Linked DNA regions of Homo sapiens: region 1 is linked to region 2. The links come from fine-mapping of genetic effects on gene expression. A gene starts in region 2. The other region holds a variant in brackets. All regions are shown on one strand. Distances are between the middles of the regions. Region 1 overlaps PAMR1 (peptidase domain containing associated with muscle regeneration 1). Region 2 holds the start of PAMR1 (peptidase domain containing associated with muscle regeneration 1).

Region 1 (12,229 bases), 79 kb after region 2:
TATAGATTTTTAAATGAAATCTCCCAATTTTTATGTCTGCAACGAATTCCATTTTATAAAACTTTCAAGCATAACATATTATGTTTTTGAGACAATTTCAGTCTGTGGGCCCCAGTGGGTGCTTACTAAGCTCAATTTTCAGAATGAATGAATCTGTGCTATTAGAAGCTACCACCATCAGTGAAGCAACATGGACTGCTTTATCTGCCTTTTCCTCCCACATCATGGAGGCATTTCTGAAAATGTAAGCACTGGAGTTTTGTGAGTCCACTTGAAGCATTAAGAAACCCATTACCCTTTTTATACCATCACAGTATTTTTAAACAGCTTACTCAGTGGGGTCCCTTTTTTATACTTATTAATAAAATGGGGGCTTTGGATTCATTTGCCAGAAAAAAATGCTGATATTACATAGTCCAAAGGCATACAGAGTGTCATTGAGATTAACTTACGCATAGTCTATGGACGGTCTTAGAGTGGACAAACCGGTGATTTGGCTAATTGTTGCAGCCTTGCCAAGTTGCACATAGGAAAGTTATTTATTTTTAATTCTCAAATATTTTAGAGGTGTTATCTGAATAGAGATTTTTTTTTTTTTTTTTTTTTTTTTTTTTTGCCTGGAGGCAGCCAAGTAAGTTTCTTGGAAGGCAATTGGGACAGTTACAGGAAAGAAAGCTTATCAAATGCATAATTGTGGGGGCCAAGATGGCTGATTAGAAGCAGCTCTAGCCTGTGGCTCCCACTGAGAAAAATGAAAATGGCAAGTGAATCCTGCACTTTCAGCTGAGGTATCTAGGTTCTCTCATTGAGACTGACTAGGTGGTTGTCATGACCCATGGAAAGCAAGGAAAAGCAGAGTGGAGTGATGGCCCAGCCGGGAGCTGCATGGAGTAAGGCAAACTCCCACCCCAGCCAAAGGAGGCAGTTAGTGATGTGCTACCCTGCCAGGGAAACCACAATTTTGCCATGGATCTGTGCAACCCACAGATGAGGAGATCCCCTTGTGAGCCCATGCCACCAGGGCCTTTGGTCTCAAGCACAGAGCTGTGCAGTCTCTCGGAGGCTGCTTGGGTTGTGGCCAGTGGCAGCAGGCTGGAGACTGCCTAAGATGACCAAGTTCCCAGGGGGAGGGGAGGCAGCCATCACTGCGGTTTCAGTTGGCCATTTTCCCCTGCTGGTCCAGAAAGATCGGACGGTTTGGACAGAGAAGAATTCCTCACAGTGCAGCACAGTAGCTGTGGCAGATTGTGGCCAGACTGCTTCTTTAGGTGGGACCTGGATCCATCCCTCCTCACTGGGTGGCACCTCCCTTCAGGAATTCCGGCAACTCCAGCCAGGGGTTTACGGACAGAACCCCAGTCTTCCTGGGACAGAGCCTCTGTGGGGAGGCGGTCATGATCTCCTGTTCAACACACTTAGTTTTTCCTGCTTGCTGGCTCTGAGGTGGCCAGTGGGACAGATCCTCTGTGGGGAGGCAGTCATGATCTCCTGTTCAACACACTTAGTCTTTCCTGCTTGCTGGCTCTGAGGTGGCTGGTAGTCCAGACGAGTGGGATTTCCCCCAGTGCAGTGCACCTGCTCTGCCAAGGGGCAGCCAGATTGCTTCATTAAGCAGGTCCCTGATCGTGCCTCCTGACTGGGTGGAACCTCCCAACAAGGGTGGCCAGACACCTCATACAGGAGAGTTCCAGCTGGCATCAGTTTGGTGCCCCTGTGGGATGGAGCTCCTGGAGGAAGGAGCAGGCAGCCATCTTTGCTTTGCTGCAGCCTCCACTGGTGATATCTCCAGGTGTGGGAGGGACCCAGGTGAATAGAGTCTGGAGTGGACCTCCAGCAAACGGCAGCAGCCCTGCAGAAGAGGGGCCTGGCTGTTAAAAGAAAAACAGAAAGCAACAACAACATCAACAAAAAAGACCCCACAAAAATCTCATCCAAAGGTCAGCAGCCTCAAAGATTGAAGGTAGATAAACCCATGAAGATGAGAAAAAATCAACATAAAAGTGCTGAAAATTTAAAAAGCCAGAGCGTCTCTTCTCTTCCAAATGATTGCAACACCTCTCCAGCAATGGCACAGAACTGGGCTGAGGCTGAGATGGATTAATTGACAGAAGTAGGCTTCAAAAGGTAAGTAATAATGAACTTTGATGAGCTAAAGGAGTAAGTTCTAACCCAATGCAAAGAAGCTAAGAATCATGATAAAACACTACAGGAGCTGTTAACCAGAATAATCAGTCTAGAGAGGAACATAAATGACCTGATGGAGCTGAAAAACACAGCATAAGAACTTCACAATGCAACCACAAGTATCAATAGCTGAATAGACAAAATGGAGGAGAGAATCTCAGAACATTAAAACTATCCTGCTGAAATAAGACAGGCAGACAAGATTAGAGAAAAAAAAAATGAAAAGGAATGAACCAAACCTCTGAGAACTATGGGATTATGTAAAAAGACCAAACCTGATTGGGGTACCTGAAAGAGACAGGGAGAATGGAGCCATGCTAGAAAACATACTTCAGGATGTCATCTAGGAGAACTTCCCCAACCTAGAAAGACAAGCTAACATTCAAATTCAGGAAATCCAGAGAACCCCAGCAAGATATTCCATAAGAATGTCAACTCCAAGACACATAATCCTCAGATTTTCCAAGGTTGAAATGAAGGAAAAAATGTTAAGGGCAGCCAGAGAGAAAGGCAAGGTCACCTACAAAGGGAATGCCATCAAACTAACAGTCGATATCTCAGGAGAAACCTACAAGCCAGAAGAGATTAGGGGCCAATATTCAACATTCTTAAAGAAAAGAATTTCCAACCCAGAATTTCATATCCAGGCAAACTAAGCTTCATAAGTGAAGGAGAAATAAAATCCCTTTCAGACAAGCAAATGCTGAGGGAATTTGTCACCACAAGGCCTGCCTTGCAAGAGCTCCTGAAGGAAGCACTGAATAGTGAAAGGAAAAACTGTCACCAGCCACTACAAAAACACACTGAAGTAGACAGACCAAGGCACTATGAAACAACTACATTAACAAGTCTGCAAAATAACCAGCGAGCATCACGATGACAGGATCAAATTTACACATAACGATATTAACCTTAAATGTAAATAGGCTAAATGCCCCAATTAAAATACACAGAATGGCAAGCTGGATAAAGAGTGAAGACCCATTGGTGTGCTGTGTTCAAGAGACCCATCTCACATGCAAAGACCCAGAAAGGCTCAAAATAAAAGGATGGAGGAAGGCCAGGCGCAATGGCTCACGCCTGTAACCCCAGGACTTTGGGAGGCCGAGGCGGACAGATCATGAGGTCAGGAGATCGAGCCATCCTGGCTAACATGGCGAAACCCTGTCTCCACTAAAAAATAGAAAAAAATTAGCCGGGCGTGGTAGCAGGTGGCTGTAGTCCCAGCTACTCGGGAGGCTGAGACAGGAGAATGGCATGAACCTGGGAGGCAGAGCTTGCAGTGAGCCGAGATCGCACCACTGCACTGCAGCCTGGGTAACAGAGCGAGACTCCATCTCAAAAAAAAAAAAAAAAAAGGGATGGAGGAAAAATTACCAAGCAAATAGGAAAGCAGAAAAAAGCAGGGGCTGCAATGCTAGTTTCTGACAAAACAGACTTTAAACCAACAATATCAAAAAAGATAAAGAAGGGCATTATATAATCATAAAGGGTTCAATTAAGCAAGAAGAGCTTACTATCCTAAACATATATGCACCCAATACAGGAACACTCAGATTCATAAAACAGGTTCTTAGAGACCTAAAAAGAGACTTACACTCCCATACAAAAACAGTGGGAGACTTTAACACCCCATTGTCAATATTAGATCATCAAGACAGAAAATTAACAAAGATATTCAGGACTTGAACTCAGCTCTGGACCAAGTGGACCTGATAGATATCTGCAGAACTCTCCACCCAAAAACAAAAGAATAAACATTCTTCTTGGTGCCACATAGCACTTACTCTGAAATTGATCATATAATTGGAAGTAAAACACTTCTCAGCAAATGCAAAAGGACTGAAATAATAACAAACTGTCTCCCAGACCACAGCACAATTAAATTAGAATGCAAGATTAAGAAACTCACTCAACCACACAATTATATGGAAATTGAACAACCTGCTCCTGAACGACTCCTGGGTAAATAATGAAATTAAGGCAGAAATCAAGAAGTTCTTTGAAACCAATGAGAACAAACAGACAACATACCGGAATCACTGGGATGCAGCTAAAGCAATGTTATGAGGAAAATTTATAGCACTAAATGCCCACATCAAAAATCTACACAGATCTCAAATTGATATCCTAGCATCACAACTAAAATAACTAGAGAACTAAGAACAAACAAACTCCAAAGCTAGCAGAAGACAAGAAATAACCAAGATCACAGCAGAACTGAAGGAGATAGAGACACAAAAAATCTTTCCAAAAATCAACTAATCCAGGAGCTGGTTTTTTGAATAAAAATTAATAAAATACATAGCTAGCTAGATTAATAAAGAAGAAAAGAGAGACTAATTAAAGAATCAAATAGACACAATATAAAATAATAAAGGGGATATCACCACTAACCCCAAAAATGCAAACAATTATCAGAGAATGCTATAAACACCTCTATGCAAATAAACTAGAAAATCTAGGATAAATGGATAAATTCCTGGACACATACACCCTCCCAGGACTGAACCAGGAAGAATTTGAATCCCTGAATAGACCAATAACTAGTTCTGAAATCGAGGTAGTAATTAATAGCCTACCAATCAAAAGAAGCCCAGGACCAGATGGATTTATGGCTGAATTTTACCAGAAGTACAGAGAGGATCTGGTACCATTTCTTCTGAAACTATTCAAAACAATGGAAAAGGAGGGACTTCTCTCTAACTTATTTTATGAGGCCAGCATCATCCTGATAACAAAACCTGTCAGAGATGCAACAAAAAAACAAAACTTCAGGCCAATATCCCTGATAAACATCAATGCAAAAACCCTCAATAAAATACTGGCAAACCAAATCCAGCAGCACATCAAAAAGCTTATCCACCACGATCAAGTTGGCTTTATCCTCAGGATGCAAGGCTGGTTCAACATCTGCAAATCAATAAACATAATTCATCACATAAACAGAACTAAAGATGAAAAAACATGATTAAATAGACACAGAAAAGCCTTTGATAAAATTCAACATCCCTTCATGTTAAAAACTCTCAATAAACTAGGTAAAGCAGGAACATACCTCAAAATAAAAGCCATTTATGACAAACCCACAGCCAATATCATACTGAATGGACAAAAGCTGGAAGCATTCCCATCGAAAACTGGCACAAGAAAAGGATGCCCTCTCTCATCACTCCTATTCAACACAGTACTGGAAGTTCGGGCCAGGGCAATCAGGCAAGAGAAAGAAATAAAGTGTATTCAGACAGGAAGAGAGGAAGTCAAATTTTCTTTGTTTGTGAATGGCATGATCCTATATCTAGAAAACCCCATCGTCTCAGACCAAAAGCTTCTTAAGCTGATAAGCAACTTCAGCAAAGTCTCAGGACACAAAATCAATATACAAAAATCATAAGCATTCCTATACATCAACAACAGACAGGCAGAGAGTCAAATCATGAATGAACTCCCATTCACAATTGCCACAAAGAGAATAAAATGCCTAGGAATACAGCTAACAAGGGAAGTGAAAGATCTCTTCAAGGAGAACTACAAACCACTGCTCAAGGAAATCAGAGAGGACACAAACAAATGGAAAAACATTCCACGCTCATGGATAGGAAAAATCAATATTGTGAAAATGGCCATACTGCCCAAAGTAATTTATAGATTCAATGATATTCCCATCAAACTAGCATTGACATTCTTCACAGAATTAGAAAAAACTATTTTAAAATTCACAAGGAAACACAAAACAGCCCATATAGTCAAGACAATCCTAAGCAAAAAGAATGAAGCTGAAGGCATCACACTAACCAACTTCAAACTATACAAGGCTACAGTAACCAAAACAGCATGGTACTGGTATAAAAACAGACACATAGACCAATGGAACAGAACAGAGACCTCAGAAATAAGACCACACATCTACAACCATCTGATCTTCGACAAACCTGACAAAAACAAGCAATGAGGAAAGGATACCCTGTTTAATACATGGTACTGGGAGAACTGGCTAGGCATATGCAGAAAATTGAACCTGGACCCATTCCTTACACTTTATACAAAAATTAACTCAAGATGGAAAAATGATTGAAATGTAAAATCCAAAACTATAAAAAGCCTAGAAGAAAATCTAGGCAATACCATACAACATAGGCACAGGCAAAGATTTCATGACAAAAACGTCAAAAGCAATTGAAACAAAAACAAAAATTGACGAACTGGATCTAATTAAACTACAGAGCTTCTGCACAGCAAAATAAACTATCATCAGAGTGAACATACAACCTACAGAATGGGAGAAAAGTTTTGGAACCTATCCAACTGACAAAGGTCTAATATCCAGAGTCTACAAGGAAATTAAACAACTTTACAAGAAAAAAAAATCCCATTAAAAAGGGGGCCAAGGACATGAACAGACACTTCTCAAAGGTACTGGTTTTGTACCAGTACCATGCTGTTTTGGTTACTATAACCTCATAGTATAATTTGAAGTCAGTTAGCATGATGCCTCCAGCTTTGTTCTTTTTGCTTAGGATTGTCTTGGCTATATGGGGTCTTTTTGCTTCCTTATGAATTTTAAAGACATTTATGCAGCCAACAAACATTTGAAAAAAGCTCAACATCACTGATCATTAGAGAAATGTAAATAACCACAACGAGATACTATCTCATGCCAGTCGCAATGGCGAGTATTTAAAAGTCAAGAAACAACAGATGCTGCCAAGGCTGTGGAGAAATAGGAACACTTTTACACTGCTGGTGGAATGTAAATTATTTCAAGGTGATTGAACTAATTTGGTGATTCCTCAAAGATCTAGCACCAGAAATACCATTTGACCCAGCAATCCCATTACTGGGTATATACCCAAAGGAATATAAATCTATTATAAAGATACATGCACATGTATGTTCATTGCATCACTGGTCACAATAGCAAAGACATGGAATTAACCCAAATGACCATCAATGATAGACTGGATAAAGAAAATGTGGTACATGATACACCATGGAATACTATGCAGCCATAAAAAGGAACAAAATCATATCCATTGCAGGGACATGGATGAAGCTAGAAGCCATTATCCTCAGCAGATTAATGCAGGAACAGAAAACGAAACACTGGATGTTCTCACTCATAAGTGGGAGCTGAATGATGAGAACACATGGACACAGGGAGGGGAATAACACACACTGGGGCCTATCAGGGGGTTGTGAGGGGAGGGAGAGCATCAGGATAAACAGCTAATGCATGTGGGGCTTAATACCTAGGTGATGGATTGACAGGTGCAGCAAACCACCATGGCACACGTTTACCTATGTAAGAAACCTGAACATCCTGCACCTGTATCCGGA[G/A]CTTAATAAAATAAAAATAAAAAGAAGGAAGGAAAAAAAAAAAGCACAGTTGCATTGCACAGAGACTGTTTTATAGGGATGAGCCTGTCTGTGTCTTAGAATAAATGATTTTAAGGAAACCAGGGAGTCTACTAGAAGAGGAGACAGAAAAGGTGGCAAGGGTTGAGAACTACTGGATATTATAATCAATGCCTGTGTGACAGGATCAATTGTACCCCAAAGCTCAGCATAATGCAATATACTCAGGTAATAATTCTGCACATGTACACCCTGAATCTAAAATAAAAGTTGAAATTATTTATATTAAAAAAAAGAAACTAAGGTCAGTTATGGTGGCTTACACCTGTGATTCCAGCACTTTGGGAGGCCAAGGTGGGAGGACAGCTTGAGCTTAGGAGTTCAAGACCAACCTGGGCAACATGGTGAAACCCCATCTCTACTAAAAATACAAAAATTAGCTGGTGTGTGCCTGTGGTCCCAGCTACTCAGTAGCCTAAGGTGGGAGGATCACTTGAGCCCAGGGGATGGAGTTTGCAGTGAGCCAAGATTGCGCCACTGTACTCCAGCCTGGGTGACGGAGTGAGACCATGTCTCAAAATAAATAAATAAATAAAAAAAGAAAAAGAAAAAAAAAGAAAAAAGAAAGTAGGGAGGCTGATAGGTTGATAGAGTGATTGGTACCCAAATCAAGTAGTAGAAGTTTGAATTCTATGGGAGCTCGGCTTCCTTAGGCAAGTCATATTCAGTAGTGTCATAATCTATTTGAGAGAAATATGTTACCTATCTGATAGAATATTTCCAGAATATATCTAAAAATCCTGTTTAGTGCTCAGAATAGCTGCTGATGCCATTTCTACTTTAATAGCCATTCAACAGGACTCAAAGAATAGAAATACCTCTGTAATGAATATCAAATACTTAGATGGAAAGTTATATTTGGAGATCAAGGGAAATTTATTGTATCTCTACAATTATATTGTTCTGTAGTATTTTTAACTATAACTTTCAATACACTTATTTTCCTAGAGATTAAATATAAAATCTAAATTCACTTTATGTATGTACTCTTATTTCTAAGCAGCTCTACTTTCTGGGTACAATACAAATAGGAAATGGAATAGTTTTTAATTGCCCAAGCTTTAAAGAATGAAGGAGATAATACAACAACACTGAAAAACAATAATCCTTGTATACCGATAATAAAATTTAGGTGAGATATTTATTTTACTCAGGGCTGCCTAGTTCCAACAGTTTGAGAAAGAAATGGACAAGATGATATAAGAGCCAGATTTGGCATCAAATTTATTTATATATAGAATGAGATTTTTCAATTTAAGAATAAATTATGAAAACAGGGGAAATACATGTCTAGTACATGAATTTTCTATTATGAGATTTATTTTAGTAATTCTTTTGAGCACCAGATCCTATATCATTGTATTTTTAGTTCAATGAAACATGAAAGATTCTATTCTAAAATGGAATAACTCAGACTTTTAACAATTCTCCTTTTCTTTTACTTTCTTTTAGTCCTTGAAGAAAGAAACTGCTCAGACCCTGGGGGCCCAGTCAATGGGTACCAGAAAATAACAGGGGGCCCTGGGCTTATCAACGGACGCCATGCTAAAATTGGCACCGTGGTGTCTTTCTTTTGTAACAACTCCTATGTTCTTAGTGGCAATGAGAAAAGAACTTGCCAGCAGAATGGAGAGTGGTCAGGGAAACAGCCCATCTGCATAAAAGGTAACTTACAATTGTTTCTGAAGTCTACGGACATTGATGAAGTTGCTAGACTTTTTGGTAGCTCCTTTGCATGTTTTTAAGCCCCTGGAAAAATGCCTTTCTCTTTTAAGTCCTTTCTGAAACCATATATCTCTGAGGTTGGAAACCATCCTAAAAATATTTGCTTCTTTTTTTTTTTGACCTCAAGAGGACCTGCTTTCCCTAATCACAACACCTTGAGGTGATCAAGAAGAGGAATGTAGTTATCAGAGCAGTTTAGGAAAGATGACAGGGCTGAGTTTAATATATGCAAATCCAAGTATAGAATTGAGGCAATGTATAAGCATGTACATAGCTCCACTTATCTACTTTCTATGCAATATTAAGTTGATGTGAGAAATAAAAGAACAAAATAGACACATCATCCCTGCCAGCCTATGGAGGGGGAGGATTGAAGATGTTAAGATGTTTAAAAACAAAGACAGAGAGTAAACCCTTGTACATTCAAGGGATAGTTATAGGAAGAGATGAGTGGTGTAAGTTCAGCAAAAGGAGAGATCAGCATTCCTGAAATAGGGACAATTGCATGAATCCAGTAGGACTGGAGCCAGTCTGGAAAGCTGGAGAGGATTTGTAGATGTGAAGAGGAGTCGGGATGGTATTCCAAATGGAAGACAGCAGAAAAGAAAAGAGGTGTAGGCAGAAGTGAAGTCATCATGGTAAACTCAAAGTGAGGCAATCTGGGAATCAAGGGGTAAACTTAAATATGTAGGTTGGACAGAAAAGTGGAATATTGTATAGAGAAGTTTGAACCTTCCCCATTGGCAGTGGGGATGCATAGTTTCTCACTGAATTGATTCACTAGTTGCTTCAGGTTAACATCCTCTCTATTTGGGGGCAGGCCACAATGATCTGGCTGTTTACTGGGAAGAAAACATGTCCTTGTCCTAGATTATCCGGATAATTGTCTTAATCCTCCACTTTGCCTTCTGGGTGTTTGTCAACAACCTGAATCATGGGAAAAGGAATGAAAGGGAATGGTTTGTGAAAGGAATAAATCACTTTAGACTTTAGCCAGAAGCGACCTTCATCCCCACCAGCACAAATTCTGATTTTTATTTCATTAAGTATGGGAACGGTGTCACATATGTCCTTGGAGATTTTTGTCCAGTCTTCTCTTACAAATTAATACAACCAAAGTTCTCTAAGTTGCTAATTAGATGAATGTTGGCTGCCTGATTGGGAAAGTGAGATGGGAAGGATTCCTTTTCATTCTTGAAGAAAGAGAGACTTCAACAAAATTAAACTGGGCTTTGAATTGCCCTCAAGTGATTGTTAGGGGCCTTAACAGCAGAGAAAGAACATGGAGGAATCAGTTTTCCAAGACTTATCTATGGTTGACACTGCTGTCTGGTGTCAAAAGAGAACCTTCTAATTCCCCATGTGGGCTATGTTTTAGAACCTTCACTTTGACTTTTATTCCATTTTGATCAAGTTTGCTAATTACATTCACATGAACAGATGATCCTAATCTATGATGCCATTGTCCCAAATCACTCAGGTGGGGCAGCCTTTCAGAGGCATCTGCTCTTCTTGGATTCTTCAGAGGGTGCTGTCAATCAAGATGAAATGCACCAAGCTCTTTTGTAAAGTGAGATGTTCAAGCTTGGCTGACATGTCTTGCCTCTGAGAGCCTGGGGAATGGGCACCTGGTGTCCAGAAGTGGGGGTCAGGTATGAATCTGAACTGAATGATATGAACAGTGAATATGGAAAAGGATCATGCAGCATTGTCTTTTTTATTTCTAGCCTGCCGAGAACCAAAGATTTCAGACCTGGTGAGAAGGAGAGTTCTTCCGATGCAGGTTCAGTCAAGGTGAGGTCAAAACACCTGCACTCTGCCCTGAAGGCTAATGAGTATTTCCCCTTCCATTCCCCTTCCCCACTTGTGTTTGGCCAAAGATAGTCAGTTTGAGGTTTCTTAGGGACATTTAGTGCTAACTGGTCATGAAATAATAGGGCTTGTTAGATGGAGGCTTATTAGCCAGCTGCCTTTAGCCAAGAGGTAGCAACTGTTGGAAGATGTACAAATTTCACTGGATCGTGGGAAAGTAGATGACCGGTGGAAAGCAAGACTTTCAGATGATCTTTGAGAAAATGGACTTGAATCCTTGAGTCTTCCTGAAATTACTATGTACTTGTTATGGTAGCTTCTAGGAAGATGACATTTCTGTTAAACACAGTCAGCTATAATTTAGGAAGATATGCTTGGAGGTAACCAGTGAGATGAGGCAGGCTGGGGGAGCCCAAGAACTAGAGACAAATGACCAGCCATGCAGAAGGATGTGAGCCCCTCTGGTATGCTCAACCTTCCTCCTGGGAAGACAAAGGTGGGGTCCACCTGGTGGGGAGGGAGTAGCCCCTTTCTACTCATTTCTTCTACATTCTCTTCCTCACTCTCTCCACTCAGCTACACGGGCCTCCTTGATTTTCCTCTATCACTCCAAGCACAGTTCTGCTTTGGAAACTACACTGTGGCTCCTTCTGTCTGGAGCCTGCTTCCACAAGATCTCAGGCTTATTGCCTCACTTCCTTCAGTTCTCTGCTCAGTTTTTGCCTAACAGAGAGAGATCTTCCCTAAATATCCTTTTAAAGATAGCAATCCTATCTTCACCCTGACTGTCTAGTGGACCCCTTTACCCAGAATTCTCTAGCCTGTAGTCTGTTTCTGTTTTTATCTTAGCATCTCTCTCCACCTGTTGTCTTACATATTTTTAAGGGTTTATTTGTTCAATTTCTGTCAACCTCACCCTCCCCAAAATGTGAAAGTTACACGTGCAGGAACATTATCTGTTTTGTTCATGCTGAAAGTTCTAGTACCTAAAACAGTACCTGCCACATAGTAGGCACTCAGTAAGTATTTATCGAATGAATGAATTGGATTGACAAACAAAGGTTCAAGACCTGAGTCTGCCTCTGTCTTTAGT
Region 2 (12,229 bases):
AGCAAGCAGTGGTAGGAGGTGAGGGCAGAGGGGGAGATAAGCATCACAGAAACAGTTAACATTTACTGATATCTTAGTATATTTTAGGCACTGTTTTGAGCTCTTTACTCTAGCCCTAATGGCAACAGGTACTATTCTTCAGACTTAACAGATGAGGAAACCAAGGCCATCATATGTGAAATAACATGCCCAAGTGTACACAGGTAGCGAGTGGTCCATCTGCATTCAACATTAGTCAGTATGGTCCAGAGCAAGTGCTCTTAAGTCAGAAATAGTTTTTTAAAGGTGAGGAGGAGGTGAGAGGGCCCTCCAAATGTCCACTGTGCAGTTTATAGCCTAGACTCAATGATTGTATATATTCACAAAATCACTTTCCCCAAATCTGAGAAATATTTGGTCCATTTTTCAATTTTAACTTACGAAGATTAGTGATTCTAAAAAAGTTGGGAGTTTGCAAATGAGAAGGCTATGGCTCCCTCTTATTCAAAAACCTGCATGCAAAAATTTGCATATGATTTTGGAAGATTCAAAGTCCCTCAAAAAACCCCATCTCAACCAGGAGCTTCCAGATTAAGAATCCTTGATTTAGAACAATACTAAACTCTATCAATATGAAAAATGCAGTTGACCATAATGGGGACAGAGAAAGGTAAACTTGTGTAGGAAAACAGAAATTTGTGTAGGGCTGAATGTCCTCAGTAAACTACTGACTTTTCTGTGTCATAATAACAGTTCTCCTCTTTCTCTTCCAGCCCTGGGATTATTGTGCAGTTCAACAAGGTAATATCTGATTACTGCTTTGACTTCTCCAGAAAAATACATCCTCCACCTTTGCAGAGCATCTTTTTGAGAGTTTCTTTCCAGGTCCTCAGCTCTAGGAAATTTACAAACCCAAATTAGTGACAACAAACTAACAAATCAACTCTTGAAGGGGATTCCAGAAACAGAAGAAGGGCCTCTGTTTCCAGACCCCTGAACCTAGAGAAGTAAAGACCTGGTACCAGGGACTTCCTTAGCAAATAGCCAAACAGGTTTGTTGGGAAGGAAAAATAATCTTTCTTCCCTACCCATCTTAGATTCCTTGGCTGTGGCCCTGTAAATTAGAATGACAAAAAAAAGAAAAAACAGATTAACAAGAGAAAAACAAACAAAAGTTTTTTATTAACTTGTGCATGGTGCTTACATGTTGAAATACCTAGTGAGGAGTAACTCAAAGAGATGGTTAGAATTTGGGTTCATATTGCATTTTTAAAAAGAACAATAAATTTGCAGAGAAGTGGCAAGACAAACAAAAAGGACTTTGAGCTTCTAGGGGTAGCAAATTATGGGAAGATAAATAAATGGGGGTCCTAATGGGAGATAAGACTAGTTAGTAAGTTTTGGTATGTAGATTCCTCTGGGCTGATAAGGGTCTAGGGTTGTCTCCAATGATTAACTTCTGTCCGTCCTGGTAGAGAGGGGAGGTGGAGACACTATACTTTTATAAATTCAAGTCTGCTTTTAGGAAAATGGGGGGAGAACAGAGACCTATTCTTGTATCTACTTCTTCTTAACTGCTTTCAGCTCAAAATAATCCTTATGCCAAAGGGGCATATTTGGGGGTGGTATAGACTGCTATCCTTCAGGTTCATCACTTAGAGCCCCATTCTGTCAGGGGGATGCAATTCATGTAGGGATGAGGCTGCTTGGTATTGACTCAGAGAGGTGTGTGTGGTGGGGGCTGGGAGGTGGGGAGAGGGAAGATGAAAAGAAACCCCACGTGTCATGGGAAGGACCAGGTGGAGATAGTTGAATCATGGGGACAGTTACCCCCATAAAAGTTTTCATTTTGTTCTCTAGATGTTGGTGGGCCCTGGTGGTTTAGGAGTAAGGTGTGCTGAGCTCGAAGCAAAGTCTTGGGAAGAGAAGTCACCCTGGACTATTGATGAAGGCCTGGAGTAAAGATTAAGAAATGGAAGTGGAAGGGAAAAGATAAGGGGAGAAACCTGAGGAAGGTAGAATCTGTAAAGCTCAGGTGCCGTCAGCTGGAGTTGAAACAGACTCCTGAGAGGCTCTTATGCCTACAGTTATTTGGGAACTAAGTCATCTTCTTCCCACTCCCATCACCAAAGGACCAGGACTGGTTGGCCAGCAACAAGGTGAACCTCCCTTCTTCGAACCTCTGCCCTCTACCTCTTAGGTATATGCTGCCCTCTGGTATTCTGCTCCTGTTTAAGGCTACTCTTGGTGCTTATTTTAACTGATTTCATCTCGATATGGAAGTTGAGTGTAGGAACAAGACTCATACCATGAGATGTTCTTGGGGGCAGTCTCAGGTCAGATAATAGAGATAATGATTAATATTTAGTGTGCACTTAATATGTGGTAGGCTCTGTGCTATGGGCCTTACATGCGTAATCTTATTAAATTCTTCCAGTGATCTACAAAGTAGGTTTGATTATTATTTCCATTTTATAGATGAGAAGACTGAGATTCAGAGAGTTAACTTGCTTAAGGTCACACAGCCAGAAAGTGGTGAATCAACAAAATTAGAACACAGGCCTGCTGAGTTCTTGCTTCCAGTCACTTCACTGCAATAGGCCCCCAGAAGCAGGGCTGGAGTTCAGAAATTCTTTCTAGTAGAGCACCTGTGTCAGGGCTCCTGACCTTCTGATCTGTCCTGAGCTTTACAGATTCTACCTTCCTCAGGTTTCTCCCCTTATCTTTTCCCTTCCACTTCCATTTCTTAATCCTTACTCCAGGCCTTCATCAATAGTCCAGGGTGACTTCTCTTCCCGAGACTTTGCTTTGAGCTCAGCACACCCTACTTGTAAACCACCAGGGCCCGCCAACATCTAGAGAACAAAATTAAAACTTTTATGGGGGTAACTGTCCCCATGATTCAATTATCTCCACCTGGTCCCTCCCATGACACGTGGGGTTTATGGGAACCACAATTCAAGATGAGGTTTGGGTGGGGACACAGCGAAGCCATATCAAATGGTGAAATACAATTCTGCATATGTAGCATCCTAAGAAGCTCTATAGCCTAGTGGCTAAGACTATAGCCTGTGGGCCTAAGCTGCCCGGGTTCAAACCCTGGCTCTGCCCCTCACTAACTGTGTGGCCTTGGATGAGTTATTGTAATCCTCAATGGTTCCGTTTCTCTAATTGTAAAATACAGAGGCTAGGTTTATTGTGAGGAATAATTGAGTTAATACATGTAAGGTACATGACACCTGGCACGGAGGAGTTTATTTTAAAAAGTCACCTATTATGAAACATCCTTCTTCCTCATTTCGAGATGTCACTTGCTATCTTGTACCTAAACTGAGCCCTTTTGGTGGAGGCAGTGAGGGTTCTTGTGTGTTCTTCGCCATCCCTGCCTGGCGTGTGCGCAGGAGCTATTTATGTTGCTGAATTCACCATCGTGGGGATCACAGGAAGAGGAAAACTTTTTCCAGTAGCTCAGGAGCTGCTTATGTCGCTGAATTCACCATGACGGGGATCATAGGAAGAGGAAAACTTTTTCCAGTAGCCTGTAGTTGCAAAAGATAATAAGCTTTCCAACCTGTGATCACCTGGAGCAAACGGAGAGGAAAGGAGATAAACGAGGAGTGTTGCGTGCGGAGTGGAGGGAGGCTCCCTTTCTCCTCCCATCACCAACTCCTCCTTCTCCTCAGGCCAGGCTTTTAATCAGGCTCCCCGCGTGCAGTCAGAGAGGGCAAAGCCAGCTCCCGTCTCAGCCTCCCGTAGGAAGATCTCCCGGCCTCACCTGAGCGCCCCGCAGCCCTGGGTACCTCTGCTCCCGCCCAGGGTCCTATGGCCCCTCCTCCCAGCACCCAACACTGGGACCCCACCTGTACCCAGGCTGGCCTCCCTCCCCCGCAGCTTCCTTTGCAGCCGCCGTCCGCGGGTCTCCAGGCGTGGCCACACCTCCCGGGGCCCCGCAAGGGTTAAGGCAGCAGAGAGGAGAGGTTTGGGCTGACGTCGCTCTGGCTGAAGGTGGTTCCCCTCAGATGAGGATGGGAGAGCCTGGCGAGCTGAAACCCGAGCTCCCGCTCAGCTGGGGCTCGGGGAGGTCCCTGTAAAACCCGCCTGCCCCCGGCCTCCCTGGGTCCCTCCTCTCCCTCCCCAGTAGACGCTCGGGCACCAGCCGCGGCAAGGATGGAGCTGGGTTGCTGGACGCAGTTGGGGCTCACTTTTCTTCAGCTCCTTCTCATCTCGTCCTTGCCAAGAGGTACTGTGAGTAGCGTCCGGGACACCCTAGGAGGACACCCTAGGAGGGAGCATTTTCCTCCTGGGGTCTGCCTGGGAGCAGGACTGGGAGTCTCAGGAGGTGGGCTGTGTGTGTTTGGGGTGAGGGGTTGAGGGGGGGTGGTGCTTTTCCAGTGATAATTTTAGGGACTTGGCTGGTGGTGCTGGAGCTCCTGTGGCCCTCCCTGAGACTGTGACGTGGTTTTGTCATCCCAAATCGTGGGGCTGTACTGTCTCAGGAAAGCGGACCAGCTCCTATTTTATTTGCTCTTTTTATCATTTTAAAAGTACCAAATTGCCTTAGGGAATCAATTCTGAGTTACCCGCTCTGACTTGCAAAAGCGAAGTTTCTCTTGGAAAGGGCTCCCTCAGAGGTGAGCAAGAAAGAAAGAAGAGAGGGAAAGAAAGAAAGGAATAAAGAGCAGGGCTTGCTTGGTGTTCTTCTGGTGAATCTTGCTTCACGAACTCCTACAGCCATACCCCTTCGGAGTAGATCCAAGCACAGGAGATTGACTCACTCAGCATATATAGACACACTTCCTTTCTGATGAGAGTGAGAAAGAAGAAAAAGCCAAGGTTAAAAGTGCAGATTGTTTCTGGGATGCATAGGGTTTGTTTTGAAAGAGCTCTGGCTTCTTTGGTTTTCATATATCATTTTCTAAGCCACAATCCCCAGGTCAAATGGGCTTCTGGGGACAAATGAGGCTGGGACATGATACGGAGATCCAGCTAAGGGCAGAAGCGAGGACATGGCAGATCCTGCTTGCTGGCAGGCGGGGAAGTGGGAACGTCATAGGAACATCTGTCCTTCTATGGCCCAGGGGGTAAAGTGAGACCTCATGAGATGAGGGCAGGCCGAGATGTACAGAAATGACCAAACGGGGCAGCTCTGAATAGGGGCAGGTTATGTACGAGCCTTCGCTGCTTCCCTTCTGTGCTGGTTACCTGTCACCTGAACTCTATCTGAGAGCTGGGTGCTCTGCCGCTGCAAGTAGCTGGCAAGTGCCTGAGAATGAAACAGGCCAGGTCGGGTGGGGAGGATACTAAATGCAATAACCTGTGTAGAAGGGAAACTTAGCCATAGGCACATCCCTTCATGATCAACGAAAAGCTGAGATACACAAACCCCCCTGCCCTTCATTTTGGTCAATACTTTCCATCTACCTAGAGCCTGCCTGCCCAGGTAGGATCTTCCTTAATGATTTACAATAAAGATGGTGAGTGTTTCATTTGAATTTTGCCTCCATGGTGTCTGGAGCAGCCCAAAGACAATAATAAAGGAAGAAGGAGCCCTTCATAAGGGCTGACAATCCATAAACCTAAACACTTGCCTAGGGGTAAGTGGGTGACTTTGCATTAAGGCACCTCCCTACTTCATCTTCGCCTTTGCATGGTGTCGGTGGACCAGCTCCAGAGGACCTGGTTCTTCTCAGAGTGCCAGGGCTCAGTGGATTTGATTCCTCAGGGTTACATCAGCGTTCCCCTGCTTCCTGTTTTATTACATGGCAGGTGAGGCGCTTCAAAGCCATAAAAGTTTAAAAGAAAATAAAAAAACCTGAGCTGGCTCTTTTTCCTAGCCCAGAATCTGAAAAATCCATTTATTTCTGACCCGAGAACCTCTTTTACCTTTGGCTGTGAAAAAGCTTCAGAGAGGATACGCAGTTTGTTGGTAGCTAAACTGCTGCCTGAACCAGAGCGCAGCTTCATGTGTTTAGCAAGGATATTTTAGTTGTTGAATGTTTTACTCACATTTCGAGGGAAGACGGAGGAATAGCGTGGAGAAGGAAAATATTTCCTCAAGGAGTGAAGGAAGTCCACTCCCTGCTGGGATGCTGAATCTGGCCCCAGGCAAGAAAAGCTTGGAAGCGTATTTCCTCTAATTAACTTTTCTAAAAAGAGTATTTGCTGAATTGTAAACATCCACTGGGATGGTACCAGAGAGTGTTGTTTCTCACTGGCATGTGACACATGTTGGGAGGATGAGAATCCAAACATGAGGCCAAGCGATAACCCAACATAAACAGAATGAGGGGAGAAACCCAACTCCACTGACTTCACCAAATTGCGGTAGCTCTGCCAGTGTGATTCTGCCGAAGAGGAAAACCTCATTTAAAATATGGGACTCTTGGGAATGAAAACTTAATCTGGAGAACTTCACAAGTGTTGCTTCCAACAGACATTAACTTGTGGGGAATGAACATAAATGCAACCAGGGAAGATAATTTGAAGTGCAGATATTCAGTGGGCAGGAAAAGCCAGCCGAGAAAGGAAACATGGAAAGAAAGCAAGGGAGAAGGAGTGGCAAGAAAAATGAGATGTGAGATTACACTGGGATATGTTGGCAAATTCCTAGGAGAAAGCTAGGAAAATTGGGCCTTCTTGGCACGGGTGGATTTTTGCGGGGATCATGAAGAGGGTGTTCCCCTAATATACAATCTGAGAGCTCCTGGCATCCCCAACAGGAAAATAATTTAATGATGGGATCATGGAGTTTAGGAGCTGAGAGTGACTTTAGAAATTATTTTAGTATGAGTCCCTCAATTCAGAGGATGAAGAGATTAAACATCAAGCAAACATTTAGTGAACATTTATTAATGTGTCCAGTCTTTGAGCCAAAGGCTTCATATGCATTAATTCTCAGACCACCCTGAAATGGCATTGCTGTTATTATCCGTGTTTTACAGATGAGGTTCAGAGAGGTTCTATGATACACAGAGGTTTAAGGATATACAAGTATGGTTCCCCCAAAAATTGAACATAGAATTACCATTTGATTTAGCAATTCAATTTCTGGGTGTATACACAAAAGAATTGAAAGCAGGGACTTGATTAGATATGTTTACATCAATGTTCATAGCAGCATTATTCCCAATAGCCAAAAGGTGGAAACAACCCGAATGTCCATTGATAAACAAGATACAGTATACACCTACGACGGAATATTATTCAGCCTTAAAAATAAAGGATATTCTGATACGTGCTATAACACAGATGAACCTTAAGACCTTATGCTAAGTGAAAGAAGCCAGACACAAAAAGACAAATGTTCTGTGATGCCACTTATATGAGGTACTTAGAATAGTCAAATTCATGTAGACAGAAAGTAGGGTGGTAATTGCCAGGGCCCAGGAGAAGATGGAATGGGAGTTATTATTTGATGGGTACAGAGTTTCAATGTGGAATAGCAAAAAGTTCTGGAGATAGATGGTGGTGATGGTTGCACAATAGTATGAATGTACTTATGCCACTGAACCATGCACTTAAAAACGATTTGAGGCAGGCGCAGTGGCTCATGCCTATAATCCCAGCACTTTGGGAGGCCAGGGCGGGCAGATCACGAGGTCAGGAGATCGAGGCCATCCTGGCTAACACAGTGAAACCCTGTCTCTACTAAAAATACAAAAAATTAGCTGGGCGTGGTGGCAGGCGCCTGTAGTCCCAGCTACTCGGGAGGCTGAGGCAGGAGAATGGTGTGAACCTGGGAGGTGGAGCTTGCAGGGAGCCAAGATCGCGCCACTGCACTCCAGCTTGGGCGACAGAGTGAGACTCTGTCTCCAAAACAAAACAAAACAAAAAAAAACCAAACAAAAAACGATTTGAAAGGTAATTTTTTGTTATGTATATATTTTCCACAATAAATAAATAAACAACTACACTGGCAGAGTAGTGGAGCCCAGGGTGAGCTCAGGCTGTCTAGTTTCTGAACCCAAGTTCCTCCGTTACCTGGAGGACATATATTCACACATCCAGCACATGGACTGATTATGCTGATGGACATCTAACTTTGTTAGGGTTTCAGGATGCACATGAAGCAGGGGAAAGAGAGCCCTTGCTAGCTCCTGTTTTACTGGCATTGTTGCTGCTTCTTGGCTGGTTGTGGCAAAGAGGGAGACTGTGCTGATAGACCAGAAACTGGCAGCCTTTGGAGCCAAAAGGCCTGCAGAATTTATTTAGTAGGACACAAGTGCTTCAGAGTGTTTTGAACCTGAATGTCTTGAGGTAGGCTGGATCCTCTCTAGGGTCTGACACTCCACCTCTCAACCCATATGTTTAATACCTGCTAATCCTTACTAGCATTTGAAGTTTTGACCTCCATTTCTGAGAGGGATGGGACAGGAAGGGGGAATGAGAGGGAGAAGGTGGAAGGCTGGATGGTGAATGGAGGGAAACAAGGGAGTTCAGCTGCTGAGGACTAATTGGCCAACAGGATTTTTCAGAGCATCTGGTACATCAGACTTTTATCAGTGTCTAACATATTTTAATCTGTATATTTCATGGAGCATAATCTTACCTCTCTCTGTGACCTCCAACTCTTTAGTAAAATGTTTTACTTTCATGAATGCCCTTGAGCATAAGCTTTCAGTGGAAACTGAAGACAGGGCTGGGTGTTATATCTGGGTCAATAACCTGTGAACAAAGCACCTTAGACATGGGAGCCCAGAAGCAGAGGTGACCTAGAGCGCGTAAGTCCCTCAGGAATATGCAGAAGTCTTGGGGAGGGCTTTAGAATGCCATTGGCATGGACAATGGATTTGACTTAATCTTATCCACATCTGGGTTATACTGGCTAGACAGAAATGGCCAACATAATGGTGCCTGGGACCTAATGACAGGTCTTAGATCTGAAAATTATTTCCATCTGCCCCACTGGGGTGGCCAATCCTGATGCAAAAGAAAACTTCTCTACCTGCCTCCCCTGAGACCAGCTCTAGAAGCTGCAGTTGATTTGGGGTGTAAGCAAATGGGGAAAAGTGCCATTTCCATGATAAATGAGGGAATATTGTGCCCCATTCCCCCCTCATTGGGGAGGAGCTGTCATCCTCACTTTGTGGATATTTGAAAGTCACAAGAGCCCAGCCTCCCTCCTCTTTTATTTTAAAGGGGAGGGAAATGCAATGTTTACATTTTCCAGTTCCTAAATTCCAGGGCAGAGAACCCAGAGGCCAGCTGGAAAACTGAAAGCACCAGATCAGTGGCAGAAACTCTATTAGATTCCAAGCCTGGTCTATGTTTAAGGAATTCTGTTTGTCAGTCATCTCAACACCTGGGCGAGAGCTTTAGATTAAAATGAAGAGAAAGAAGTAAAAAATTCAGGACACACCAGATCTCATACCTGTAAACAGAACTGCTCAAGGAAGGCAGAGAATTGGAGTTGGCTGGAGATATTAATCTCTGAATCAGTGTGACTGCTACCTCCTACTCAACTCTACCCCTTTTACTTGGTTGCAGTTGTCTATGAGACAGACTCAGGGCCCACGTGGGTTGAGAGTGGAGTAAGTAGGGGTTGCACATCAAGGCATCTTTACCCTTGATGATACAATCATCAATGGTGGAAACACCTTTGAAGAGGCTTCCATTCTAGCATACCTAAGGAAATGAATCCCAAGTTTGGCTATCCAAATAATTTATTGAGTTTGTGGTAAACACTAGGCACTCCCGTATATGCTTTATATATATTTACTTAATCCTCACCACAAACCTAGGAGGTAAGTACTATTGTTGTTTGCCCCCACTTCATACACAAAAGAGCTTAGGCAAAGGGTTTCAGTACCTGCCCAGGTCATATAGCTGGATATCCATGTTTTTGAATCCAGTCTGACTCCATAAGGCATGCCCTGAAATGTGACACACCACCACCACAGTAAGCAGTAGGTCCAACGGTGGCAGATCTGCTGGCTGTATTTTGGCGAAATGATAAAAAATCATGGTGTTAGTAAGGGTGTCTGATTATCCCTGGAACATCCCAAGTGCCCAGATTGGCCTGTGTCAAGTCATGTTCTCACCTCTGTGGAGGTGGAGTGGATGCAGGAAAAAGACAGAGGCATCAGCAGCCCCAGTAGCACCACATGGAACCCAAGAGGAGCCATTCCCTAGAGGAAACAGGGGTGCCAGGCAGACCAAAAGTCCAACCAGTTTCTGGGACAGCTGTCCATGGTGTCATGTACCTTGCTCCCAGTAGACATGAGAGGTGAGAATTTCTTTGTCCCATGGTAAATTTTTATCATCCAAATCACATGTCTGTTTGCAGAGGAACAGAATTGCTAATGAGACCATTTATTCCAGTGTGGCCCTGACATTGTGTATGTCTGCTCCTTTATGGATGTGTTCTGTGTAAACTCTTAAGCCATGGGATGGGAGGAGCAGACCTGGAGTGAATAAGCGGGAGCATTTTTCCCCCTTCTTTTTTGGCAAAACATAGTTGATGAATATTGCAGGGGATGGAGACTCAATCCCTTTCCTCTAATCCTAAGATGGGTTTTAACCAATTCATCTCAACCTTGAATGAGGATCTACTGTCTATCAGACACCAGTGTCCTGGATCTTATGTCAGCTATTTAAAGAAGTGGCCCCCTTGGCTGAGCAGCTATGAAGACTACTATTTCTCTCACTCTTCTCTCTCTGGTGTTGGATAAATGCCTTTATTTCTGCAGTCTGGGCATCTTTATCATTGCCCTCTCTGAGGTTCTGGCTGTCTCAGAGGGTTGAGTTAGTGGTTTGGCAGCAAGCATCTCTGTAAGTAGAAGTCTGGTCAGTTGACTTGATGTTTGGAAAACCAGGCTGTTGCTGCCAGAACAGAGTGAGGAACACATTTAGCTAACTTTAGCTCGGGTGAGACACAATTGTCCTCACACACTGACACAACAACTGTCCTCATGCACTGAATTGATGGTGGGTTAAAAAAATTCCAGCTAGCTTAATGAAAAACCACTGGATGGAGAGGGGATGTTGGGTTGTTTTGCTTGAAATCAAATGAATTGTTGGATGACTCCAAGAAACTAAAGCATCAATGTTTTTCAAATCCAGTTGCACTTCTATTTACTTTATAATTCCACTGGATGGTATAAGGGAAAAAAAGACAAAAAGAGGCTCTGTGGTCAAACAACTTGAAGTAATCAGTTAATTCTCTGATCACCTCAAGTTGTTTGACCACAGAGCCTCTTTTTGTCTTTTCCTTTATACCATCCAGTGGAATTAGTGCTCCGTGGAATACAGCTTGGAAAACTCTGATCTCTCACCCGTAAGGCATAAGACGTGGAAGAATATCTCACCATTAAAGAGGAAAGGGTAAGAAGGGAATTTGAAAGTCTAAGAAACATGAGCCTCCCTTTAGACTTTTGCATCCACCATGGGATCCCTCCTTAGAAGTTAACGAGAATGATGGAGAACACCTGAAATGTCCTAAGACAAGTTGCCTGGGCTTAGCTTCTACCTGGTATCATCTACTCCTATAATTTTCAACCTACCTTTGCTTACTTGGATACAAGCAGAAGTGAGGACATGGCTGGTGGTAAGGAATCCTCATTACAACACTTTTTGGTCTGGCTTTTTGCCTCCCAGGGGGTTAACTGCCTGCTTCTCAATGGTGTTCAGCCTCCCTTTTGGGCAAGCCTGGTCCTGTGGCCAATGCACTGGTAGAACAGAATGGGTAAGTATCTCAAGCCCTCGTGGAAATGAGATACAAATTGCAGTCAACAAAAATATTCACTAATGGACCCAATGGATTCCTCTTTCTGTACAATAGAGACTCTGAAAAGTCACAGCAAGAGAAGATTCTAACATCGGTCTTTGTCACAAATAGCCTTTACACTTGGAATCACACATGCTCCCATGTCCATATTCATGTATTTATTTAGTAATCCTTATCAAGCCCCTATCGGGTGCCAGGCATGGTTATAGGTGTTGGCAATATCAAGATGAACAGGACAAAGTCCTTTTTCTGAAGGCACTTGCAATCTACTGAGAGAACTGATGGTTCAGCTTGGCATTTCCCAAAATGGGTTTCAGGAAATGCTAATCCTGGGAGATATTCAGCAAAAGTAAACAGAATCCAGGATGTTATGATGAAATAAGTCTGGGGGATTTGGAGATTATAGACTCTGCAGAGTCCTGCAGTAAAGAAAGCTATAATTCATTTTTTATAATGAAATATTTCACAAAGTTGTTTGACCACAGAGCCTCTTTTTGTCTTTTTACCTTATACCATCCAGTGGAA

The links. PIP is the estimated chance that this variant, and not a neighbour inherited with it, causes the effect.
Region 1: its variant is the best candidate, but not a certain one, in a credible set for the expression of PAMR1 in fibroblasts (GTEx, PIP 0.84).

The regions. Positions count from the first base shown.
Region 1 is chr11:35,438,516-35,450,744 of GRCh38, reverse strand. PAMR1 (peptidase domain containing associated with muscle regeneration 1) reads left to right here. Exons shown (of 11, transcript NM_001001991.3): 7 at 9,052-9,264; 8 at 11,052-11,118. Among named protein-coding and RNA genes, the nearest start is that of SLC1A2, 25 kb to the right of the region's middle. The variant G/A (reference allele first, on the strand shown) is at 7,522.
Region 2 is chr11:35,517,503-35,529,731 of GRCh38, reverse strand. It overlaps PAMR1 (peptidase domain containing associated with muscle regeneration 1), which reads left to right and starts at 4,116. Exons shown (of 11, transcript NM_001001991.3): 1 at 4,116-4,219. The coding sequence starts at 4,147.